Linked DNA regions of Homo sapiens. The protein of the gene in region 1 purifies or fractionates together with the protein of each later gene. This does not show direct contact. Each region holds a gene or a part of one and is shown on either strand. Other genes may lie near its edges.

Region 1 (7,551 bases):
AAGTTCAAGACCAGTCTGGCCAATATGGTGAAATCCCATCTCTACTAAAAATACAAAAATTAGCCAGGCGTGGTGGCATGCGCCTGTAATCTCAGCTACTCAGGAGGCTGAGGCAGGAGAATCGCTTGAACCTGGGAGGTGGAGGATGCAGTGAGCCGAGATTGAGCCACTGCACTCCAACCTGGGCGACACAGCGAGGTGTTACATCTCAAAAAAAAAAGAAAGAAAGAAAGAAAGAAAGAAATGAACTCTCCAATAGGAATCCCTGACTCATCCCCAAAGCATGAACCCTAAGGCCACTTCTCCAGTACAGGAGTTCAGAGGCTGGGCAACCTGTCCTGATGGCCCGCATCACCAAACAATGCTCCTTCCTGACGGTATATGCCTAGGGATAACAAGGTGACTAGCATGCAAACAAGAAATGACCAGGGACCACACCATCTCTTCTTCCATAACCAAAGTAAGACGGTAAAAAACTAGTTTTAGGCCGGGCATGGTGGCTCACGCCTGTAATCCCAGCACTTTGGGAGGCCAAAGCAGATGGATCACTTGAGATGAGGAGTTCGAGAGCAGCCTGCAAATATGGCGAAACCCCATCTCTACTAAAAATACAAAATTAGCAGGGCGTGGTAGCTTGCGCCTGTAGTCCCGGCTACTTCGGACAAAAATTAGCCGGGCGTGGTGGCACGTGCCTATAATCTCAGCTACTCAGGAGGCTGAGGCAGGAGCATCGCTTGAATCTGGGAGGCAGAGGTTGCAGTGAGCTGAGATTGCGCCGCTGCACTCCAGCCGGGGCGACAGAGCGTAGAGCGAGACTCCGTCTCAAAAAAAAAACCAACCAACCAACCAACCAAACAACAAAACCCAAAAAAACTAGTTTTAAACATCTTAAATATTCAAAGTATTTTCTTCTACTTTTGCTAGAAAGTAGTAAAAAAGGGACTCCATCCAATTGCTGTAAATGACACCATTCAAAAGATACCAAGACAATAAAAACTCTCAATAGTAAAAAGGGAAAATGCCGTTTTCCTTAACCCTTTCAGATCAAAAAGTAATTTTTCAAAAATACATAGGCTAAATATCAAGAGCAAATGTTTAAATATAAGCAATATTTTTATTTTTAATAAGGAATAAGTTAGATTATTTAACTTATATTTTCAATCTTCAAAAGATACTGAGAAAACTTTACTTCCGTCCTCTATTATTGGTCTGGGGAGGCGGGAATCACAAAGCTCAACGATGCTAGTATAATACTGTGTATGGTCAAGGGCCTATTTTATAAGCTGTTAAAAATTTAACGCTAAAGCTTTACTAGACCAGTCTCTTTAAAACGTGAAAAAGTATTCACTACTAAGTCATATCACCTCCACCATAAAAACTACTGTACTTTTTAAACAAAAAATAAAAACTAGCCAATGTTTGCTGCCCATTCATTTTACAGGCATTAACTGTGTATCCTTCTCATAATCAGATTTCAGAATTAAGTGATTATTCTTCGAGGTGTACCTTACCCAAGATAAAAATTTTCCCCAGCTTATTTCCCATTCCCAACCCCCGCCAAGACTAAGGAGCAACCACTTCCCAAAGTCCCACTTCCTTTTTCATTCCCCAGACCTACAGGGTTTCCAACGCCCCAGTCTTGCGCAATATCCGTAGGAGCAGCAGCCGCAACCACCGCCTCCTAAGCCGGGAAACAACCCTAGAGGGAACATTGTCCAGCAGAAAAATAAAAAGGGCGGGGGTTGGGGGGGTGGGTAACGTAGGAAGTCGACTTCTGGTCTCACGCCTTCGGATCTGACCCCCTCACAGTGTGCTAAAGCAATAGTGTATCTAGAGCAATTTCATGAACAAGACTTTTAACCTTCACCTCCTCTCAAGACTGCCTGCACAAGCAGAGGGCGGAAAGTAGGGGGTGGCGGAGGCGGGGGGGCGCTGGGAAGGTTATCTCCCAGTTCAGGGCTTCGGCCCGTAGCGTCGCCTCCGCCCCACCAGGACTATTGTTCCCAAGTTCCCCACCCCCACCCCGGATAGGAAGTGATAGTCACATCCCCTCCGCCTTCGGCAATATCCCCTGGGGAGTCCGAAGTCGGCTGGCTTCCTTCAGGATAATTCCCCCACCCACACTTATCCCCTGAACCTATAGTCACACGGACCCCAAGACCACCTCAAACCTGGGCCTCAGGAGAGGAGAAGCGGGACGCGGGTAAATGGAAATTAGGTAAACCCATGAGATTCCTTATGGGCAATCCTTTCCCAAGCGTTGGAGATCATGACTGCGACCCCAGAAACGGCCTAAGTCCTACCCTGCCCGCTTTGAGACCAGCTAGAGCAAAGGGATCCCAGGAGTTAGTGCCAACCTCAATACCCCCGTTCCTCTGTCAGCCACGATCTGCACTCCTCCCGGTCACAGCCAGATACCTTGCCTCGACCCTCCTGGGAGGAGCGAACTGCGCGGGGAGGTGTGGAAACGCGAGCCCCCCCCCCCGGCCTGCACCTCACTTGCCTACGGCTCCCGGCCCGGTAAACAATAGGTGGTCGCGAGCCACGGTGCAGGCTGCGGGCTCGGCCGCGCGGCCGCTCCCTTCGCGTCCCGGGAACCCGCGCGGGGGTCGCGAACATGGGAGAAGAAAGGAGGCCACGGGGGGAGGCGCTCTCGCCTCCCGCTGGCCTCCGAGACCACCCGGCTCACCCGGCTGGTGCGCGCCCCCTCCGCCCCTCTCCTCACAGAGGTACACAAAGCACTGGCGGCCCGGCCGGGAGAGGCGGCGATGGGCTCCGGCGCCGGCAAGAAAACGCGACAGCGAGGGGAGAGACTCACCATGAAGTCCCGGGCGAAGTTGTCCTCCCCATTGTGGTCAGGACTCTTCATGGCCTGGACCCTCTGGATGAATTTCCTCAGGATCTCCACTTGCTCCATCCTCCCGCGTCCCCCCGGCTGCGGTCGCTGGCCCCCCCGCCGCCCGCCCGCCCGGCACAGAGCCCGCTCCGTCTTCCCCAGCTCGTTCCCCCAGCACGTCCCTCCCTCCCGACCCCGCCAAGCCCCGCGGCTCCCTCCTCCTCCCCACCGCCCTAGGCGGCGGCTGCGGCGGCACCGGCTGGGCTCCCGACACCACAACTTCCAGGAGCAGCCGCCGCTCTCCCACAGTACCAGGCGAGCCGCTGCGCTAGCGCCAACCCCAACCCCCAGCTTGCTCCATCCTCCTTCCCCGCCCTCCTCCTCCGTCGGAGACGCCGCCGCCGCCGCCGCCGCCGCCGCCGCCTCAGGAACACAGCTAGCTCTCCGCTCGCCCTGCCCCCCCTTCCCGGTTCCTCCTCCCCCCCACCCCCCGCCAGCAGCCGCAGCCGCAGCCGCAGCCGCCTCTCCCCACGGGCGCGTCCCCGCCGCCACCCAGATGCGCGGCCTCGCGCTGCGGCTCCGCCCCAAGCGCTGCGCCCGCAGATGCATCCCCGCCCGCCTCCCGGCCACGCCCCCAAGCCCGCCCCGCCGGCCCCAGCCCCGCTTGGAGTGGCTGGAAGGCACTTCAGCGGGCGGCCTGGAGACCTGACTCCATTTCCGGGGCGTGGCCCCGCCCGGGGTGCTCAGAGGTCGGAGTATCGCTGGGAGGAGAGTTGGTTCATTTGGAGGAGGGAATGCGACTCTGAGCGGGCCAAGCCCTAGTGGGTCAGAGTAGGATTCTGATGGAATTTGCGGTCTCACCGCCTACTAGGGAGGAAAAGCAGTTTTCAGGAGTCCCGCACCGCCGCCAGCCGTGGGCTGGGACTACAAGTCACGGTCTGTGGAGTCCAGGAGTGGGGGCGGGCGGGAGGCAGGCTGGGAGCTGTAGTAGTGTCACCGCCACGTTCGCAGCAGGTAGATGCTCATCTTGCTAACGGATTGGTGAGAGTGGACAGCAATTAGGCTTTGGCACCTTGGAGCGTGGCTCCAGCTAAGGGAAGCGAAACGCTTCCTGGGTGAGAGGACTTTTATTCTTTGCTCATCCTCTTAAACCTGGCGAGTGAGCGCCTGAGGTTCGGAGTGCCTTCTTCACAGACGACGCGAATGTGGGGTCTTCGTGTTTGCCGAACTGAAGGGAATTTGCCTTCCTGCCTTTAGGTTCGCAGCAGTTCATAACTGAATAAGAGACTTTCCTCCATAGAATGGACTTTATAAATCTATTAATTTTTTTTTTTTTTTTTTTTTAGAGCTAAGGTCTTGCTCTATCTCCCATGCCAAAGTGCAGTGCTATGATCACGGCTCGCTGCAGCCTTGAACTCCTGGGCTCAAGGCATCCTCCTGCCTCACTACGTCACCAAGCCCAGCTAATACATTTTAAAAATTTATTATTTATTTATTTATTTATTTTTGGTAGAGAAGGGGGTCTCACCAGGTTGCCCAGGCTGATCTCGAATTCCTGTGCACTAGGGATCCTCAGCTTCCGAAAGTGTTGGGATTTTAGGCGTGAGCCACCGCGCCTAGCCTATAAATCTTTATTCATCTTTGTAAACTTCTATCAGAGAATATATTCTGGTCTAACTCATCATTTTACAAATAAAGCGACTTCCTGACATCCCCCAGCGTATTCTTAGCAGAGCCGTAACTAGAAGTTATTTTACTTTCACAACAGTGGCCTCTCACAATGTGACAGAACTGAAGGATTTGATCCATGAACTGACTTTCGTCATTTATACCCACAAACCTTTTTTTACAGAGCAGATTGGTCAGCGAATTTGGTTATAATAGGAAATATCAGTGGTAGAATACTTTCTCAGATGAAAGTTAGGAGCACTATGGAATTTAGTGAAAAACTCATTGAAGAAAATAGGTGTAGGCCGGGCGCGGTGGCTCACGCCTGTAATCCCAGCACTTTGGGAGGCCGAGATGGGAGGATCACCTGAACCCGGGAGGCGGAGGTTGCAGTGAGCTGTGATCACACCATTGCACCCCAACCTGGGCGACGGGAGTGAGGCCCTGTCTCAAAAAAAAAAAAAAGAAAAGAAAATAGGTGTAACAGGATATAGTTTATTTACTTCTTCAAAAAAAGGAAAATATTTCTGTTAAAATAATCCAACTAATACATCCACTCCAGAAATATGCACTTCAGACCAGGTGCAGTGGCTCACACCTGTAATCCTAGCACTTCGGGAGGCCGAGTTGGGTGGATCACTTGAGGTCAGGAGTTCGAGACCAACCTGGCCGATATGGTGAAACCCTGTCTCTGCTAAAAATACAAAGCCGGGTGTGGTGGTGCACGCCTGTAGTCCCAGGTACTCCAGAGGCTGAGGCAGAAGAATCGCCTGAACCTGAGAGGCGGAGATTGCAGTGAGCCGAGGTCGTGCCACCACACTCCAGCCTGGGTGAAAGAGCGAGAGTCTGTCTCAAAAAATAAAAATAAAAAGGCCAGGCGCGATGGTTCACACCTGTAATCCCAACCCTTTGGGAGGCCGAGGCGGGCGGATCACCTGAGGTCAGGAGTTCAAGACCAGCCTGGCCAATATGGTGAAACCAACCCCGTCTTTACTAAAAATACAAAAAATTAGCCGGGCGTGGTGACGCATGCCTGTAATCCCAGCTAGTCAGGAGGCTGAGGCAGGAGAATTGCTTGAACCCAGGAGGCGGAGGTTGCATTGAGCGAGATCACGCCATTGCACTCCAGCCTGGGCAACAAGAGCGAAACTCTGTCTCTAAAAAAAAAAAAGAGCCTCCCTGCCTGATTCTCCTGCCTCCGCCTGCGGAGTGCCTGCAATTGCAGGCGCGCGCCGCCACGCCTGACTGGTTTTCGTATTTTTTTGGTGGAAACGGGGTTTCGCTGTGTTGGCCGGGCTGGTCTCCAGCTCCTAACCGCGAGTGATCCGCCAGCCTCGGCCTCCCGAGGTGCCGGGATTGCAGACGGAGTCTGGTTCACTCAGTGCTCAATGGTGCCCAGGCTGGAGTGCAGTGGCGTGATCTCGGCTCGCTACAACCTCCACCTTCCAGCCGCCTGCCTTGGCCTCCCAAAGTGCCGAGATTGCAGCCTCTGCCCGGCCGCCACCCCGTCTGGGAAGTGAGGAGCGTCTCTGCCTGGCCGCCATCACATCTAGGAAGTGAGGAGCCTCTCTGCCCGGCCGCCATCCCATCTGGGAAGTGAGGAGCGCCTCTTCCGGCCGCCATCACATCTAGGAAGTGAGGAGCGTCTCTGCCCGGCCGCCCATCGTCTGGGATGTGGGGAGCGCCTCTGCCCCGCCGCCCCGTCTGGGATGTGAGGAGCGCCCCTGCCCGGCTGCCACCCCGTCTGGGAGGTGAGGAGCGTCTCTGCCCGGCTGCCCCGTCTGAGAAGTGAGGAGACCCTCCGCCCGGCAGCCACCCCGTCTGGGAAGTGAGGAGCGTCTCCGCCTGGCAGCCACCCTGTCCCGGAGGGAGGTGGGGGGGGTCAGCCCCCCGCCAGGCCAGCCGCCCCGTCCGGGAGGGAGGTGGGGGGGTCAGCCGCCGGCCAGGCCAGTCGCCCCGTCCGGAGGGAGGTGGGGGGGTCAGACCCGCCCGGCCAGTCGCCCCGTCCGGGAGGGAGGTGGGGGGGTCAGCCCCCCGCCCGCCAGCCGCCCCGTCCAGGAGGTGAGGGGCGCCTCTGCCCGGCCGCCCCTACTGGGAAGTGAGGAGTCCCTCTGCCCGGCCAGCCGCCCCGTCCGGGAGGGAGGTGGGGGGGTCAGCCCCCCGCCCGGCCAGCCGCCCAGTCCGGGAGGGAGGTGGGGGGGGTCAGCCCCCCGCCCGGCCAGCCGCCCAGTCCGGGAGGGAGGTGGGGGGGTCAGCCCCCTGCCCGGCCAGCCGCCCCGTCCGGGAGGGAGGTGGGGGGGTCAGCCCCCCGCCCGGCCAGCCGTCCCGTCCGGGAGGTGAGGGGCGCCTCTGCCCGGCCGCCCCTACTGGGAGGTGGGGAGCCCCTCTGCCTGGCCAGCCGCCCCGTCCGGGTGGGAGGTGGGGGGGTCGGCCCCCCGCCCGGCCAGCCGTCCCTTCCGGGAGGTGAGGGGCGCCTCTGCCCGGCCGCCCCTACTGGGAAGTGAGGAGCCCCTCTGCCCGGCCACCACCCCGTCTGGGAGGTGTGCCCAGCAGCTCATTGAGAACGGCCAGGATGACAATGGCGGCTTTGTGGAATAGAAAGGGGGGAAAGGTGGGGAAAAGATTGAGAAGTCGGATGGTTGCCGTGTCTGTGTAGAAGTAGACATGGGAGACTTTTCATTTTGTTCTGTACTAAGAAAAATTCTTCTGCCTTGGGATCCTGTTGATCTGTGACCTTACCCCCAACCCTGTGCTCTCTGAAACATGTGCTGTGTCCACTCAGAGTTAAATGGATGAAGGGCGGTGCAAGATGTGCTTTGTTAAACAGATGCTTGAAGGCAGCATGCTCATTAAGAGTCATCACCACTCCCTAATCTCAAGTACCCAGGGACACAAACGCTGCGGAAGGCCGCAGGGTCCTCTGCCTAGGAAAACCAAAGACCTTTGTTCACTTGTTTATCTGCTGACCTTCCCTCCACTATTGTCCTATGACCCTGCCAAATCCCCCTCTGTGAGAAACACCCAAGAATGATCAATAAAAAACAAAA
Region 2 (7,268 bases), on another chromosome or scaffold:
CTCTGGCAGTTCAGCTTGCATGCCTCACTCAGCAAAACTAAGCTCAGAAGTTAGTTAGGCTCCTGCCCTTTAGAAGGCATGTGCTTCAGATAGGGATGGGGTCTCAGTCTCCCTACCCTGAACAGCTTATTCAAGTCTTCCTTCCAGCCTTCCAGCCTTGTGCCACACCATCCCCTCCCTGAGAGGTATTCTGAAAACAAAGATTTCCCCATCTTGTTGCATGCCTGGTGCCATTTTAGCACTCTTCAAGGAGTGGTACCCTATCGCACTCACCCAGCCAGACTTGTCCAAGAATCTTGCCCTGGTATGCTAGGCATGGTGGCTCATGCCTGTAATCCCAGCACTTTAGGAGGCCGAGGTGGGTGGATCATGTGAGGTCAGGAGTTCAAGACCAGCCTGGCCAACATGGTGAAACCCCATCTCTACTAAAAAGAAAAAGAAAAAGAAAAAGAAAAAGAAACTTGCCCCAGTAAACCACTTTTTTTTTTTTGGAGACGGAGTCTCGCTCTGTCACCCAGGCTGGAGTGCAGTGGTGCAGTCTCGGCTCACTGCAACCTCTGCCTCCCAGGTTCAAGCAATTCTCCTCCTGAGTAGCTGGGACTACAGGCACATGCCACCACACCTGGCTAATTTTTTTCTACTTTTAGTAGAGACGGGGTTTCACCGTGTTAGCCAGGAAGGTCTCAATCTCCTGACCTCGTGATCCACCTGCCTTGGCCTCCCAAAGTGCTGGGATTACAGGCAGGAGCCACCATCCCGGCAGGTAAACCACTCTTTTTAGCCTGAAGGAGAGTAGGTCAGTCTGTTTCCCATTAGTGTCCTACATCTTTGTTTGCTTCCTTAAGAAGAATGTAGGACCCTGAGGGCAGGAATCCACCTCCTCCTCATTTTGCAGGTCCACACAGGTCTCTGACTTCTGCAAATGTCAGAACACTTAAGCCCTCATACTCAAAAGACAGTATTTTTAGTGAGACAGCGTCTTGCTCTGTCATCCAGGTTGCAGTGCAGTGGTGTAATCACGGCTCGCTGCAGCTTCAACCGCATGGACTCAAGTGATCCTTCTGCCTCAGCCTCCTGATTATCTGGGACTGCAGGTACTGGCCACCATGCCTTGCTAATTTTAAAATTTTTTTTGTAGAGACAGGGTCTCAATATGTTGCCCAGGCTGGTCTTGAACCCCTGGACTCAAGCAATTGTCCCACCTCGGCCTCCCAAAGTACTAGGATTATAGGCATGAGCCACAGCGCCCAATCATAAGACACATATTGAGTAAAACTTGGACCACAGAAAACCTCGAAGTGTAATAGAAGAAATCACAAAACTTTAGATCAATAAACTTGACTGTATAAAGTGTTTTCAAAATCCATATACATATATCATTTTACAGATGAGGAGGCAAAGCTGAGGAAAGCTGAATAATTTGAACACGGGCACACACATTCTTTGGCTTGAAAGGAGCCAAACTGGGAATCAAACCCGGGAATGTCCAGTGCAAAAGCTTGAGGGCCTGAGGACTGCCTCTCACTGTGTCATGCCTATACTGGATGTTAGAACATGTGAATTACACACACACACACACACACACACACGTGTATATATACAAAAATATATATTTTAAAATATGCATATAAATTTACAAGCAAAGCATGAGGAAGAAAACAAAACCATTTGTAAAAGAGGAATTACAAGAAAATAACCAAATGTGCACTCTCCCTGGTGATAAAAACGCAAATGAAAGTTGAATAAGGCACCAAGTTTTGCTTATTGAATGAGCAGAAAAAAAGACAATAGCTATGACTGACAGAGTGAAACTAGCATCCGCACATACTATTGGGAACACTGAGAATAGGCCCACTCTTTAGGAAATCATCCTGGTTCTACATATCAAAAGTTTTTCAATGTCCTTCTGTTAGTTAATGGTTTTTTCAGTCATTCAGTAGGTATTACTGAGAATCTGTCATGTGCCAGGCATTGAACCAGGCACCACTGGAGTAAGCAGACAGGAGTGTGGGTCCTCACCCCAAGGGCAGCCATGCCAGCCCTGGAATGACCAATCAGGGGCTTGTAGATGAGAGAGAAATAAACCTCTTCCTTGTCTAGGCCACTGTTGTTTTGGGGTTTTCTATTACTTGCAGCCAAACTGAATCCTATTTATACAGAAGGTAAGTGAGCTTTCACCAGCTGCTCTGGTTTCTTTTTTCTTTTCTTTTTTTCTTCTTTCTTTTTCTTTCTTTTTTTTTTTTTTTTTTTTTTTTTTGAGACAGAGTCTCATTCTGTTGCCCAGGCTGGAGTGCAGCGGAGTGACCTTGGCTCACTGCAACCGCCCCCTCCCAAGTCCAGGCGATTCTCCTGCCACAGCCTCCCGAGTAGCTGGGACTACAGGCACCCACCACAACACCTGGCTAATTTTTTTTTTTTTTTTTTTTTAAGTAAAGACGGGGTTTCACCATGTTGACCAGCCTGGTCTCCAACTCCTGACCTCAGGTGATTCACCCGCCTGGGCCTCCCAAAGTGCTGGGATTACAGGCATGAGCCACCACGCCCAGCCCTGCTGTCTGGTTTCTTAATGGAGTAGAGGCAAGATCACCAAAACACAGTGAGAATGTGGGAGGGATGTGTAGGTTTGAGTGGAAAAGGCATGAAATTATCACTGCAGAAAGGGCAAGAGTGACTTATTAGAGAAACATAGTAAAATGGCTGGGCAATGATGAGTTCTGTCTTGAGTTTCCAGAAATAGATACTTAAAGAATCCCAATTTTAAATACCTTACACGAATGACATGCACCACATTCTTTATTATAGAAAACACTGGGCCGGGTGCGGTGGCTTATGCCTGTAATCCCAGCACTTTGGGAGGCTGAGACAGGCAGATCACCTGAGGTCAGGGGTTCAAGACCAGCCTGACCAACATGGAAAAACCTCATCTCTACTAAAAATACAAAATTAGCCAGGCATGGTGGTGCATGCCTGTAATTCCAGCTACTTGGGAGGCTGAGGCAGGAGAATTGCTTGAACCCAGGAGGCGGAGGTTACAGTGAGCCGAGGTCGTGCCATTGCACTTCAGCATGGGCAACAAGAACGAAACTCTGTCTCAAAAAAAAAAAAAAAAAAAAGAAAAGAAAAGAAAAGAAAACTCTAGAAATTACATAAATGCCAAACAGTGACAGAATAGTTGTATCACTCACAAAACTTTTCTAAATAATTGTTAGGGAAAGTAGATAGCAATATATAAAATAAGTTATAATTTTTTTTTTTTTTGAGATGTAGTCTGGCTCTGTCGCCCAGGCTGGAGTGCAGTGGCATGCTCTCAGCTCACTGCAAACTCCGCCTCCTGGGTTCAAACGATTCTCCTGTCTCAGCCTCCCAAGTAGCTGAGTACAAGTGCCCACCACCATGCCTGGCTAATTTTTGTTTTCGGTTGTTTGTTTGTTTTGAGACGGAGTCTCACTCTGTTGCCCAGGCTGGAGTATGGTGGTGTGATCTTGGCTCACTGCAACCTCCGCCTCCCGGGTTCAAGTGATTCTCCTGCCTCAGCCTCCCGAGTCGCTGGGACTACAGGCACCCACCACCACGCCCGGCTAATTTTTGTATTTTTAGTAGAGACAGGGTTTCACCATATCGGCCAGGCTGGTCTCGAACTCCGGACCTTGTGATGCACCTGTCTCAGCCTCTGAAAGTGCTGGGATTACAGGCGTAAGCCACCGCGCCCGGCCAATTTTTGTATTTCTTTAGTAGAGACGAGATTTCACCATGTTGGCCAGGCTGGTCTCAAACTCCTGATCTCAAGTGATCCACCCGCCTTGGCCTCCCAAAGTGCTGGGATTACAGGCATGAGCCACTGTGCCCAGCCAAAGTTACGATATTTTAATTAAAGCAGTAGAATACAAGATAGTACAGATACTATAGGATTATAATTATGCATGGAGGAAAAAAGTTGGGAAAGTACCAAATCACTAATAATATATATTTTAATAACCTTAATTTTATGTTAATATTAAAAACTATTGGCCAGGTGCAGTAGCTCATGCCTGTAATCCCAGCATTTTGGGAGGCCAAGGCAGGCAGATTGCTTGAGCTCAGGAGTTTGAGACCAGCCTAGGCAATATGGTGAAACAGCGTTTCTACAAAAAATACAAAAATTAACCAGGCGTGGTGGCATGTGCCTGCGGTTCCAGCTACTTGGGAGGATTGCTTGAGCCCAGGAGTTTGAGGCTGCAGTGAGCCGTGATCGCACCACTGCACTCTAGCCTGAGTGACAGAGCAAGACCCTGTCTCAAAAATAAATAATTTAATTAAATTAAAACTACTGTTTTAAAATTTCATGTTGAGACTCATCTTCTTGAGTAGCTAATAATCTCTTAGAGGTGAGATGTTGTGTGTCTGTCTCTCTGTGAGCCCACAGCAGCTACCACAAGGCTGGCCACTCAGACTTCACATAGACATTTGCTGAGTTGAACTGCCTGAGATTACGTGGGGAATGGAGAAGAAGTTCCTCTCTTCAACAAGTTGCTGTGTTTTCTCCGTTGGTCACAAGGTCTCTCACCAGAAGGTGAGCCCCACGTGTGTGGGCTTTGTGCTGCACCCCTTCTTGAGTATAGGGCTTCTAAAGAAGCCAGAGCCCGTCCTTAATGATATTCTCCTCATGCAAGACCACCAGCCAGTCACAGCAGAACAGTTTCTTTAAAAGGGTGGAACAGGCCGGGTGCGGTGGCTCACGCCTGTAATCCCAGCACTTTGCCCAGGCGGGCGAATCACCTGAGGTCAGGAGTTCCAGACCAGCCTGCCCAACCTGGTGAAACCCCCGTCTCTACTAAAAATACAAAAAATTAGCCGGGCGTGGTGGCGCATGCCTGTAATCCCAGCTACTCGGGAGGCTGAGGCAGAAGAATCGCTTGAACCCGGGAGGCAGAGGTTGCAGTGAGCCGAGATCTCGCAACTGCACTCCAGCCTGGGCAACAAAAGTGAAACTCCATCTCAAAAAAAAAAAAAAAAAGAGGTTTTTGACGATTATTTTAAAGCTAGCTCCCTCCGGCTGCTCTACAAAGAATGTATGGGAGAGCAGGTAATTGTTCATGACTCTATCTTCCCTTTTGCCACTAGGCAAGACAAAAGGAAACAGCCCTCCTGGTGTGTTTCTGGGGACCAGATTGTCAAATTAAATTCGACCTAGGCTGGGCGCAGTGGCTCACTCCTGTAATCCCAGCACTTTGGGAGGCCGAGGCGGGCGGATCACGAGATCAGGAGATCGAGACCATCCTGGCTAACACGGTGAAACCCCGTCTCTACTAAAAATACAAAAAAATTAGCCGGGCGTGGTGGCGGGCCCCTGTAGTCCCAGCTACTCAGGAGGCTGAGGCAGGAGAATGGTGTGAACCCAGGAGGCAGAGCTTGCAGTGACCCGAGATCGCACCACTGGACTCCAGCCTGGGCAACAGGGCGAGACTCTGTCTCAAAAAAAAAAAAAAAAAATGTTGGCCTAAAGCTGCCTCCATAAATAGCAAGCCACAACCTAACTTAGTGTGTAAACAAACCGTAACCTAACTAAGAGTATATTCTTGTAACAAGTAGCTGGGTCTCTGCCAATCATAACAGGGGAGCTTTCAGCCAATCCCAGGCTGCAGACTGCCCAGTCAAGTCCAAATAAGGCAACCACCCAGGTGTAACCAATCAGGCTATTTCTGTATCACCTCTTTTTTCTGTAAGTATTGCCTGCCCACTTTTGCCTTGTGGAGCTCTCTGAACCTTTACTGGTTCAGGGTGCTGCCTGATTCATGAATAGTTTCTTTGCTCAGATAAACTCTGCTAAATTTAACTAGTCTGAAGTTTTTCTTTTCATAAAATCCGAGAGAGTATTTAAAAATTACAGCAACAATCTAAACATTGTACAAAATACACTATGGGGTCAGCAGGGAGACTCTGTGGTGTTAACCTGTATTCTTTCTGTATTTTTTTTTTAAAGCAGCCTCCTATATTTATCTAGAGCACTGTACAGTCAGTTCTCCATATCTGCATCCATGGATTCAACCAACCACAGATGAAAAATATTCCAAAAATTAAAAAATAAAAATATACCAATTAAAAAATACAAATAAAAAATACAGTGTAAACAACTATTTACATAGCATTAACATTATATTAGGTATTATAAGCAATCTGGAGAATACTTAAAGTATACAGGAAGATGTGTGTAGGTTATATGTAAATACTACACCATTTTATAGAAAGAATCTGAGGACAGGCATAGTGGCTTACACCTCTTTTTTTGAGACAGATTCTCGCTCTGTCGCCCAGGCTGGAGTGCAATGGCACGATCTCAGCTCACTGCAAGCTCCACCTCCCAAGTTCACAGCATTCTCCTGCCTCAGCCTCCTGAGTAGCTGGGACTACAGGCGCCCACCACCATGCCCGGGTAATTTTTTTGTATTTTTAGTAGAGACGGGGTTTCACTGTGTTAGCCGAGATGGTCTCGATCTCCTGACCTCGTGATCCACCCGTCTCAGCCTCCCAAAGTGCTGGGATTACAGGTGTGAGCCACCATGCCCGGCCGGCTTACACCTCTTATCCCAGCACTTTGGGAGGCCAAGGCAAGAGGATAGCTTGAGGCAAGGAGTTTGAAACCAGCCTGGCCAACATAGCAAGACCCAATCTCTGTATTGAAAAAGAAAAAAGAAAAGAAAGGACTTGAATGTCCATGAATTTTGGTACCTGCATGGGAGTCCTAGAACCAATCCCCTACAGATACCAAGAGATGACTGTATAGAGAAAAACCATTGAGCAAAGCCAGAGGCAACATCAGTTCAAACTCTGCTAAGGCTCCAGAATGACAAGATTCCAATCTGGTAAAAGGTTTGGATGAGAGTGACAGCCTTGTGTTGACAGCAGGGCAATGAGCCAGTTCAGACAGCCCCAAGACTTTCCCTAGTCAATCCCAGGCAGAGAGAAGCCCTGCCCACTACAGGAACAGGGTTGCTGAAACAGCAACTAGGAAGCTGGTCTACACCAAGAACCTTGGGAATCAGGAAGGCCCAGGAAAAATAAGTATCTACAGGAGGTTCAGGGACGATTTGGACCTCACACCCAAGTGAGAAGCCTGGAAATCCCCAGGGGTGAGAGAACACTGCTTTCATCTACCCTTCCAAAACGGGTCCCACTGTCACCCGTGCATGCCCGTATCTGAAGGACACTGGTGTCTGATCATCCCAAAAACTGGAATTTTTTCTCATTGTGGCCTGGCTGTTTCCCTGGATCTTTGGAAACTGTGGTCACTG

Evidence for each region.
Region 2: the proteins of PTPN12 (region 1) and PSTPIP2 purify together in Homo sapiens (affinity purification with mass spectrometry; 5 studies listed by BioGRID and IntAct, with this or other methods). This does not show direct contact.

What each region holds. Positions count from the first base shown.
Region 1 is NC_000007.14:77,532,913-77,540,463, reverse strand, and holds the start of PTPN12 (tyrosine-protein phosphatase non-receptor type 12), read right to left. Parts: upstream 3,170-7,551; 5' UTR 2,918-3,169; coding exon 2,819-2,917; intron 2,422-2,818; exon of another isoform or gene 2,358-2,421; intron 1-2,357. UniProt on the Homo sapiens protein: Dephosphorylates a range of proteins, and thereby regulates cellular signaling cascades. Dephosphorylates cellular tyrosine kinases, such as ERBB2 and PTK2B/PYK2, and thereby regulates signaling via ERBB2 and PTK2B/PYK2.
Region 2 is NC_000018.10:46,062,052-46,069,319, forward strand, and holds part of PSTPIP2 (proline-serine-threonine phosphatase-interacting protein 2), read right to left. Parts: intron 1-7,268. UniProt on the Homo sapiens protein: Binds to F-actin. May be involved in regulation of the actin cytoskeleton.